Linked DNA regions of Homo sapiens: region 2 is linked to region 1. Evidence: fine-mapped expression QTL. A gene starts in region 1. The other region holds a variant in brackets. All regions are shown on one strand. Distances are from middle to middle.

The links. PIP is the estimated chance that this variant, and not a neighbour inherited with it, causes the effect.
Region 2: its variant is the best candidate, but not a certain one, in a credible set for the expression of PEX14 in whole blood (TOPMed, PIP 0.52).

What each region holds. Positions count from the first base shown.
Region 1 is chr1:10,472,908-10,478,278 of GRCh38, forward strand. PEX14 (peroxisomal biogenesis factor 14) reads left to right here and starts at 2,043. Exons shown (of 9, transcript NM_004565.3): 1 at 2,043-2,095. The coding sequence starts at 2,060. RefSeq lists enhancers at 1,152-2,117, 1,940-2,129 and a silencer at 2,130-2,299.
Region 2 is chr1:10,504,767-10,510,137 of GRCh38, forward strand. All of the region lies in intron 2 of PEX14 (peroxisomal biogenesis factor 14), which reads left to right. Among named protein-coding and RNA genes, the nearest start is that of PEX14, 33 kb to the left of the region's middle. RefSeq lists enhancers at 2,578-2,637, 2,668-2,727, 3,902-4,590. The variant G/A (reference allele first, on the strand shown) is at 2,299.

The DNA of each region.
Region 1 (5,371 bases):
AGTTTGGGGTCTCAGAACAAAACGCTTAAATAAATATAGTAAGCATTAAAGTCTCAAATGCATCGGAGAGGAAAGGGGAAATGCGACTCGGCACTGTTGGAGATTGTTCAGATGCCTCTTGACAACATATTCATCTTTGTTTTAATACTGCTACTATGGAAAAGTTTGTTTTTTTCCTCCTGAAAAATAAACATCTAAGATTAAAAGAATAGTAATAAAAATGATCAAAAAGTTCCTCTCTTAAAAGAGGGCATTTTATGTAAACTAGAAGTAATTATCTGCTCATATTTATTCATTCGGGGGACACTTTCCTTCCTTGTTTCTTTTTTCTTTTTTTGAGACAGCGTTTCGCTCTGTCTCCCAGGCTGGAGTGCAGTGGCGCGATGATGGCTCACTGCAGTTTTGATCTCCTGGGCTCAAGCAATCCTCCCACCTCATATTTTGTTTATAAAAACGTGGGCAAGGGCCCCGGGGGCGGTGGCTCACCCCTGTAATCTCAGCACTTTAGGAGGCCGAGGCGGACAGATGATCTGAGGTCAGTAGTTTGAGACCAGCCTGGCCAGCATGGTGAAACCCTATCTCTACTAAAAATACAAAAATTAGCCGGGCGTGATGGCGCACGCCTGTAGTCCCAGCTCTTGGGAGGCTGAGGCAGGTGAATCGCTTGAACCCGGGAGGCGGAGGTTGCAGTCGGCCCAGATCGCACCATTGCACTCCAGCCTGGGCGTCAGGAGCAAGACTTCGTCTCAAGCAAAAACAAAAACAAAAGCAAAAACAAACAAAAAAAACGTGGGAGAGGAAATTGGATATTATCTCAAGAAAAGTTTAGACATTTAAAACAGCGTTTAGTAGGAGGAATTATTCATTAAGTCATCCCTTTTAAGCAGTCTATATTGATCAAAACACAACTATAATAGGAGCTGGCGGTTAACTCTAATGTATGTATCCTTTTTCATATAATTTCATTTTTTATTTTCTTATCTTATTTTTAGACAAGGTCTCGCTCTGTCGCCCAGGCTGGAGTGCAGTGGCATAATCATAGTTCACTGCAGCCTCAACCTCCTGGGCTCAAGGGATCCTCCTGCCTTGGCCTCCTAAAGTGTTGGGATTACAGGTGTGAGCCACTGCTCCCGTCCAATATTTAATTTAAAATCTAACAATTAAAAAAATCTAACAATTCAACCAGTGTAAAATAATGACGTTTTGTAGAAGCCTCTTCTCTTCAAAATGCCCCCTTTTATGTTCTCCCAATAGACCTGCACACTTATCCGAGTCCTATCCCCATAATACTGTAATTGTAAGTGTGTTTGGCCTGGGCGTGGGAGTAGGGATTGAGTCTTGAATGTTTTTATTTCAAGGCCTACCAAAGTCCCTAGCATATAGTAGGCACTCAATGAATGGAACTGAACTGATGTCTAAAAATTAATTTCCAAGTTTCTTCGCATTCATCCATTGGCAAGTCCCTAAATGTGCCCATGGCACTGTGGGGATGGGCAGAGATTAACTCAATAAGAATAATATGGGCCGGGCGCTGTGGCTCACTTCTGTAATCCCAACACTTTGGGAGGCCGAGGCGGGCAGATCACCTGAGGTCGGGAGTTCGAGAGCAGCCTGACCAACATGGAGAAACTCCATCTCTACTAAAAATACAATGTTAGCCGGGCATGGTGGCGCATGCCTGCAATCCCAGCTACTCGGGAGGCTGAGGCAGGAGAATCACTTGAAACCGGGAGGCTGAGGTTGCGGTGAGCCGATATCGCGCCATTGCACTCCAGCCTAGGCAACAAGTGCGAAACTCCGTCTCAAAAAAAAAAAGCAAAACCAGAATAATACACATATAACAACGCAAAGAAGATATAGACTTGGGATCTTCCTGGAAAGCAGAGTCTTAACGGAAACTATGCAAGGTGACCCGGACACCCGGGCTCCACCCCTCTGCCCCAGTCCCCTACATCGACAGGCTCTGTTCCGGCTACCTTAGTCTGGGCGGGAGGGCGAGAGCGAGGGCGCCTGGGAGAAACCTCGCCCAGCGGCGGTTGATTAGTCAGGCCTCAGAAAGATGGCGTCCTCGGAGCAGGCAGAGCAGCCGAGCCAGGTAAGGGGAGTGGGACTGCCCCGCTGTGCGGCGGAGACCCCGGCTGGAGGGGGCGCTCAGCATACGGCTGGGAGCCGGGTAGGGACCCCGAGTCTCCGAAGCTGGGGACCCCGACCTCTTGCCCCCTCCTGAGCCCCGCCCCTCCCCAGGTCCTCCCCACCCGGCCCCTCCCCCCGGTGACCCCTCTTTGACCACATTCCGGAGCCCGGGCTCTGGTGTTTGGCTGTGCCCCCGGGTCCCCACTTCCCGCCTGCCAGCACCTCTGGTCCCACTTGAGCTTGTTGGGGAGGGTGACGGGACCCTTGGGAAGTCCCCAGCCTTGAGCTGCGAGGGCTTGAGAAGGAGAGGATAGATCGATCGTTCCCGGCTGTCCCCTCCGGGGAGGGGCCTGTTTCCATTAGGGTTCCCACTCCCTCACGGCCTCAGCCTCCTGGAGCGGCTGCCAGCCTCTTCATCTGTGGTCACCTTTGCGCTTCTCTCGTCAAGTTGGATAGTCAGAAATAATCTAGTCGAGCCCTCTCAGTGCGTTGATAGGAAAGGGACGCACTGTGACTAACAGACGCCACCAAGCTTTTGGCTGAGGACCCATCCTCGCTTCCCTGGGTTTGGTTTTGTTGGCCGAGGGCTCCGCTCTAGCTTTTCACCTGCAGATTCAGACAAATCCCACTCCAATAAGGGGACCATAAGGACCAGCGTTGACGCCTGTGCCTCTGCGGCCGGGAGGCAGTGGATGATAAGGTCTCCGAAGGGGTTTATAGTCCAAAGGTGGGGTAGGGTGGGGTGAGGAGAAAAGGGCTAAGAGACATCTTACATTTAACTGCCTGTGTGGTGTCATGTTGAGCACAAATTACATCTATTATCTCGTTTAGTGTTCACTACAACCTTTATGAAGTGCAGGCTACTAACCTCCATTTCACAGAAATGAATACTAAGGGTTTGTGACATGCCCCAAATCGTGTGCTCTGTTGAGCCTGTATTGAACCTGTGTGACTCCACTAGTCATCCATACATTTTTGAGTTTAGTTAGGATTAGAATGAGGAAGAAGAAAATAGTTTCAACTTGGGGCCTCATTCCTCCTCTCCCATCTCCTTGAAGCACCTCTAAGAGTTTTCAGCAACTTACTAGTATTTCACTTCCTTCAGAGGCAGAAGACCACCGCTTAGTGTTTCTTACTGTCTTATTCTGCACGTCTGTTACAAGAATTGAACTTAAAGGAGTTGGTGTGTTCCCCCATACCAGTTTCTATTAGCAGTGTGAATGATTCAGGAAGAAGATGTCTTGATTGTAAAACATGGGAGATAACAAGGACTGATTCTGGCCTTCTCACTGTCAGGTGTTCTGGAGTTTGGCAAGTGTCTCGAGAGGAGGGCCTCTCCTTTCTTGCCTTACCACATTTAGTTTGCTGAAATACTAAGGCATCTTGGGGTCTGGGTTTCTCTGAATTGTTTTGTGTTAGGAATGCCCACAGGCTGGGATTGAAGGGTGTCCTCAGTTCCTGATTCTTTTTTCTTTCTTAAGACGGAGTCTCTCTCTGTCGCCCATGCTGGAGTGCATTGGCGCAATCTCGGCTCACTGCCTCCCGGGTTCGAGCAATTCTCCTGCCTCAGCCTCCCAAGTAGCTGGGACTACGGGTGCCTGCCACCACACCTGACTAATTTTTGTAATTTTAGTAGCGATAGGTTTCACCATGTTGGCCAGGCTGGTCTTAAACTCCTGACTTCAAGTGATCTGCCCGCCTCAGCCTCCCAAAGTGCTGAGATTATATGCGTGAGCCACCGTGCCCGGCTCTGTTCCTGATTCTTATAGGACATTTAATTTGCCAGTGCTGTAAACAGTACTAAAAATCTTGCCACTTGGAGCCACTGTTATGCCCAAGGATTCTTTTGGTTTTGCAAGTTTGCCCTCTCTGTATATGTATTTAATAGAAAAGGATCTAAGGTCCTTTAAGGGGGCATGGCCATCACTTGTTTGATTTTCAGCTCTGCTTCTCCTTTGCCCTCCTTTCCAAAGCTGGTGGAGGTAGGATTGCCACAGAACATGCTGGCAGCCTGGGGGAAAAACTTGAACTTTTCTTTTTTTTTTTTTGAGACAGAGTCTCGCTGTGTCACCCAGGCTGGAGTGCAGTGGCGCGATCTCTGCTCACTGCAACCTCCGCCTCCTGGGTTCACGCCATTCTCCTGCCTCAGCCTCCCTAGTAGCTGGGACTACAGGCGCCCGCCACCATGCCCAGCTAATTTTTTGTGTTTTTAGTAGAGATGGGGTTTCACCGTGTTAGCCAGGATGGTCTTGATCTCCTGACCTCATGATCCGCCCACCTCAGCCTCCCAAAGTGCTGGGATTACAGGCGTGAGCTGCAGTGCCTGGCCAAAACTTGAACTTTTCATAACAGACTCTATGGCTATCTAACAAGAAGCAAATGCACGCTTTTTGAATGAACCAATGCTCTTCAGCAATTGCCTGTTTCATTTTCAAGTCTTGATCAATCCAGTTTCCCATTTCTCCGATTAAAGCAGAGTAGGATTGAAAGGATTGTTTAGCTAATTCCCCCACGCCTTGTTGTGTAGGGTTAGAACTGTGGGGCTGAGCCAGTATTCTGTCTTTCACAGAAAGTTTGTTGGTTAGCCTTGTCATATCAATCTCTGGTTTCCAGCTATTAAAGGTGAATAACCTTCTCTTCCCTTGAGAGGCAGTGTAGAATAGCGGTTACAAGTATAGGCTCTAAAGCCAGACCCACTGGCTTGGAATCCTAACTCCACTAACTTACCAGCAATGTCATCTCGGACAGATCTACTTAATTTTTCTAGACTTAATTTCTCCATGTGCAAAACAGGGAAAATACTAGGACCTATCTCACAGAGTTGCTCTGAGGACTAAATGAGTTATTTATTTATTTATTTATTTTTGAGACCGAGTCTCACTCTGTTGACCAGGCTGGAGTGCAGTGGCGCGATCTCGGCTTACTGCAACCTCCGCCTCCCAGGTTCAAGTGATTCTCCTGCCTCAGCCTCCCAAGTAGCTGGGGCTACAGGTATGCACCACCAGGCCTGGCTAATTTTTTTTTTTAAGTAGAAATGGGGTTTCACCATATTGGACAAGCTGGTCTCAAACTCCTGACCTCAGGTAACCTGCCCACCTCGGCCTCCCAAAGAGCTTGGTATTACAGGCGTGAGCCACTGCACCTGGCCTTAAATGAGTTATTTATGTAAAAATGCCAGAACAGTGCCTGAAACAATGTGTTGTCTATTATTATTATTATTCAATTTAATAAGCTCTGA
Region 2 (5,371 bases), 32 kb after region 1:
TTTCTCTTCTTTCCTTCCCTCCCCTCCCCTCCCCTCTCCTCTTTTTGTTTCACTCTGTCAACCAGGCTGGAGTGCAGTGGTGCCATCTTGGCTCACTGCAACCTCCGCCTCCCAGGGTCAAGCTGTTCTCCTGCCTCCTCCTCAGTAGCTGAGATTACAGGTGTGCGCCACCACACCCAGCTAAGTTTTTGTATTTTTAGTAGAGACGGAGTTTCAACATGTTGGCCAGGCTGGTCTCAAAACTCCTGACCTCAAGTGATTTGCCCACCTTGGCCTCCCTCCCAAAGTGTTGGAATTACAGGCATGAGCCACCATACCTGGCCAATGATTATTTCTATAAATGGTTTCATTTAACTAGCATTTACCGACAGTGGATTTTGATGGAGAAGGAGAATAAAGAACAGGTATTAAACATCTTTTAGGCTAGGTATGGTGGCTCACACCTGTAATCCCAGCACCTTGCGAGGCTGAGGCAAGAGAATTGCTTGAGCCCAGGAGTTTTGAGATCAGCCTGGGCAACGTGACGAGGTGCCATCTCTATAAAAAATGCAAAAATTAGTGGGACATGTGGCTCGAGCCTGTAGTCCCAGCTACTCTGGAGGCTGAGGCAGGAGGATTGCATCAACCCAGGAGATTGTGATTACAGTGAGTCTGGGTGACAGAGCGAGACCTGTCTCAAAAACAAAACACAATCTTTTTTCCCCCCCTTTACCATACTTTTCCTTTGCTGTATCTTGTTGTCTTGTGTGTACTTTGAAATTTTTATTTTATTTAAATTTTATTTAAATTTTTATAGAGACAGGGTCCCACCGTGTTGGCCAGGCTGGTCACAGTCTCCTGGGCTCAAGTGAACCTTCTCTTTAGCCTCCCAGAGTGCCAAGATTACAGGTGTGAGCCACCCGGCCCAGCTTGTGTGTATTTTTTTTTTTTTTGAGACGGAGTCTTGCTCCGTTGCCCAGGCTGGAGTGCAGTGGCATGATCATGGTTCACTACAACCTCCGCCTCCCGGGTTCAAGTGATTCTTGTGCCTCAGCTTCCTGAGTAGCTGGGATCACAGGTGTGTGCCACCATGCCCAGCTAATCTTTGTATTTTTAGTAAAGACAGGGTTTTGCCATGTTGGCCAGGCTGGTCTTGAACTCCTGGCCTCAAGTGATCTGCCCGCCTCAGCCTCCCAAAGTGCTGGGATTACAGGCTTATGTGTACTTTTGAGAGTCGTTTAGAGTCTTTTGTGAAATGAAGCAGGGGTATCAATAAGAACATATTTTTAAAACTGTGTCAAGAGCTTGCATTTGGCATCCCTGTCTGACCAACTTGCTGTTTGGGTCCCATGGAACGTACTCACCAGGCTCTTGGTGCTCTGAACAAGGCAGGTCCTCAGCCAGTCTCTCCCACACTCATCTGTACCCCAGGAGCTAGTTTGTCCCTAAACCTGTGTCCTTGTATTAAACATGATGTCAACAGGTGAACTAAGAGTGTGAAGAGAGGGTTCTGCAAATATAATGTGTTCTTTTTTTGTGTGTTTTTTTGAGATGGAGTTTCGCTCTTGTTGCTGCCCAGGCTGGAGTGCAATGGCATGATCTTGCTCACTGCAACCTCTGCCTCCCAGGTTCAAGTGATTCTCCTGTCTCAGCCTCCTGAGTAGCTGGGATTACAGGCATGCGCCGCCATGCCCGGCTAATTTTTTGTATTTTTAGAGACGAGGTTTCTGTATGTTGGTCAGGCTGGTCTTGAACTTGCGACCTCAGGTGATCCGCCCGCCTCGGCCTCCCAAAGTTCTGGGATTACAGGCGTGAGCCACCACGCCTGGCTATAATGTGTTCTATAAAAAGAAATGTGAAAAGAAAGTTTTATGAAAACTAAGTTAAATGCTTTGCTAAATGTGAATTGCTAAAAACATTGCTGTCAAATTAGGTGTGAGCGAGATGACAGTTAAACATTAGAGGAAGATCATAAACATCTAGAAGGATTCTGTACTTTGATTGCTTTACTGATGTCTTGAAGTTCTTACTTTGCTTTAGAAATTGTGGAGGCTGTGTTATGGGTAGGGTTTATGCAAGAAAGACGTCTGGGAACTTCAGTCTGTGGGCCCACACTCAAAGCAAAGGGCTTGGCTTTACATCAAAAGATCAGCAGTGACTGAATGTTTATAGGTTTTCAGTTAATAGAAAATGTTTTCAGTATGTGGAGCAGGTTCCATTTTTGATTCCCTGCTTTAACTGATTTTTTGATTAACCGAACAATTACTAGCTCCGATCACATAGGCCAGGAGGGCTTCTACTCTGTAATATTCTGGCCTC[G/A]CTGTTGGTGTCTTTATTTTGGTCTCGCTGTTGGTGTCTTTATTTTGGTTACTTTGTTTGATTCCAACAAATTTGTGAGAATTACTCATTTTGCAGTGAGGAGACTGAGCCCAGAGCATTCAAGTTCCTACAGCTAAGAAGTGGCAGGACTGGGATTGAAAGCTGGTGTCCATGCTGCTGAACCTGTGCAGACGGGGAGAGCAGGTATGGGTGCGGTGTGGACCGCGCTGTCAGGCACACTAGCGTGCGTGCGGGGCGCCCGCTGCACAAACGTATCTTCAGCCGATGCTCAGTGCTGCCTGGTGATTCTGTACCTCCTTTCTGAGGCTGCTGCCTTAGTGTGCTCTCCGTGGTTGGAGTCTTTTGTGTGCATCTTAGCTGTTGAAAAGGCGCCTATTAATTTATCACAGGTGATGTGTGCCTCCTTGTGCTCAGAGGAGGCGTCTGCACCCATGTACCTCACTAATGACAGGTTATGGGATGGAGAGGAGATAATAGGATCTTTTCATGTGATGTCTATATAGCAAGGTGCTATGCCCCTGGTAGCTTCTAGGGGGCAGCAGCCGCTTGTTGTTCTGTCTCTTGCTGGCGGGGAGAAGGTTGGACAATTGAGCAATTTGCTCTGGACTCCAGCTCTTAAAGTGGTGCCTGCAGGTCTCCAGGGAGTCACTGGAATCCGCATAAGTAAAGAAAATACAATATCCAGGATCTTTTATTTCTACTTTCTCTGCCCCCTCAGGTAAATCCTTTATCTGTGTTTCTATCAACATCCACAAATTCCTCATTGTCAGAGTTAAGGCAGCAAAGTTCACCTGCTTTGAAGATAAGAGAATAGAGATGTCTTTAAGAGAGTAAAATCTTTCTGTCAGATCTTACTTGTTGCCAAGAGCTAGACATTGATAACCCACTCAAATAATGTTTAGAGGTTTTGAAACTTTCCCCCATGGGCACGTGTCTTTAATTCTGTTGGGAATACCACTGTCATATGGTTGATTACCTGTTCTTCCTGTCAGCATTTCCCCCCAACCCCACTCCCTCCCCCTATCCAAACTAGTCTTACAGAGGTTTCTCTTCAATTCTAAATGACTTATTTCAGAAACACATGAAGGGGAACATTGCAGATGTGCCATTTTTTTGTTTTTTGTTTTTGTTTTTTTTTTGAGACGGAGTCTCGCTCTGTCACCCAGGCTGGAGTACAGTGGTGCGATCTCGGCTGTCTGCAAGCTCCGCCTCCCGGATTCATGCCATTCTCCTGCCTCAGCCTCCCGAGTAGCTGGGACTACAGGCGCCCGCCACCATGCCCTGCTAATTTTTTTGTATTTTTAGTAGAGACGGGGTTTCACTGTGTTAGCCAGGATGGTCTCGATCTCCTGACCTCGGCCTCCCAAAGTGCTGGGGTTACAGGCGTGAGCTGCCGCGCCCGGCCTTGGATGTGCCAGATTTTTAGATTGGGGGCCCAAGACTGACATATGGGCAACTTGTGCCTTGTCAGAGTGAGTCCCAGCTCCCTCCCCCCCAGAAGTGCACCTCCTACTGTGCCCTCTGAATGCTCCTGCCTGCCAGATCTTCCAGCTGTGTGGCTGAGGCAGGTGCCCAGGAGGAGAAAGGCTGGTTGCAGGCAGAACCAGATGGTTGCAGTCCACACGGGGAAGCAAATTGGCCGTGACATTTCAGCCATGTGAGGTTTATTTAGGATTAGCTAAGAATTCTCAGCCTTGACTCCACTGAGGGAGGAGCGGGTGACCTAGGGCCACTTTCTTGTGGCTTTGCATTCTTTCAGGCTTTCATCTGAAGATCCCAGGGTACTGGGGAAGGGTGGGAGTTTCCATCCAGCTCCACTGCAGAGAGTGGCATTCCTGAAAGACAAAGGCATGCCTCCTTTTTTTTTTTGAGACGGAGTCTCGCTCTGTCGCCCAGGCTAGAGTGCAGTGGTGCGATCTCGGCTCACTGCAAACACCGCCTCCTAGGTTCACGCCATTCTCCTGCCTCAGCCTCCCGAGTAGCTGGGACTACAGGCGCCCGCCGCCACGTCCGGCTAATTTTTTTGTAATTTTTTTTTGTTGTTAGTAGAGATGGGGTTTCACCATGTCAGCCAGGATGGTCTCAATCTCCTGACCTCATGATCCGCCTGCCTCGGCCTCCCAAAGTGTTGGGATTACAGGCGTGAGCCACCGCGCCCGGCAAAGGCATGCCTCTTAACCTCACCTCTCCAGCTCTCTGTTGTCTGAAAAATGGCAGTTAATAGAATTTGTTAATAAACAGAAGAAATAACGAGAAATAGTGGCACATCATTTGACAGTAAGGTGGTTTATAATTTCTGTTTATCAAATGATTCTCATTATTATTATTTCTATTGGATTTTTGAAGAATTCAGCCTGGTCCCCAGAGCCCCATTTGTAAGGCATTTTATTTCTTTATAATATCTAGAAATAACTTCAGTTCCAGTGAAATCCAGATCTGTGGTCCCATCCCACTCCCCAGCCCTGGTTCTCTCCCCTTCCTCTCTGCTTGTCTTCTGTGACCTCAGCGGGCTCCATCAGGTGGGGGTATCCCCTACTGACCAGACTGGCAGAGCTAATGCCGGCTGGAGGAACGCTGCCGTGTTTGTTTTTGCAGTTCCTGGATTTGGTTTAATGTACAATTGATTTTTTAAATGTATTTAATCATTTTTTTCTTACCTCTTAAGGATTAACCTGCACAAACCTCATTTTATCCTAAGTGTGGCTTTGGGAGGAAGGGAGGAGAAAATTGAGTTTCTCCAGCTTATTTTATTCTTTTACGCTTTATTTTCCAAATGGCTTTTCCTGCCGAAGCAGCTTTGTATAATACAATGTATTTTCGTGGCCATTACTTACTCATTACTAACTGGTCTCTCCTGCTTCCCTTTGTCTGTGAACTAAATACAGGGGGCCTCAAGATAATTGGTAGCTCCATCACTGACCCACCAATTATAGATCAGCAGGGAAGGCAGCCCAGGGATGGTTTGTGGTTGGCACAGGCTGCCCACCTAGAAATGTGAGTTATTCTCTACCTGCCACCAAGTTGGGCTTGACTAGATCGATCCTTTCCTAAT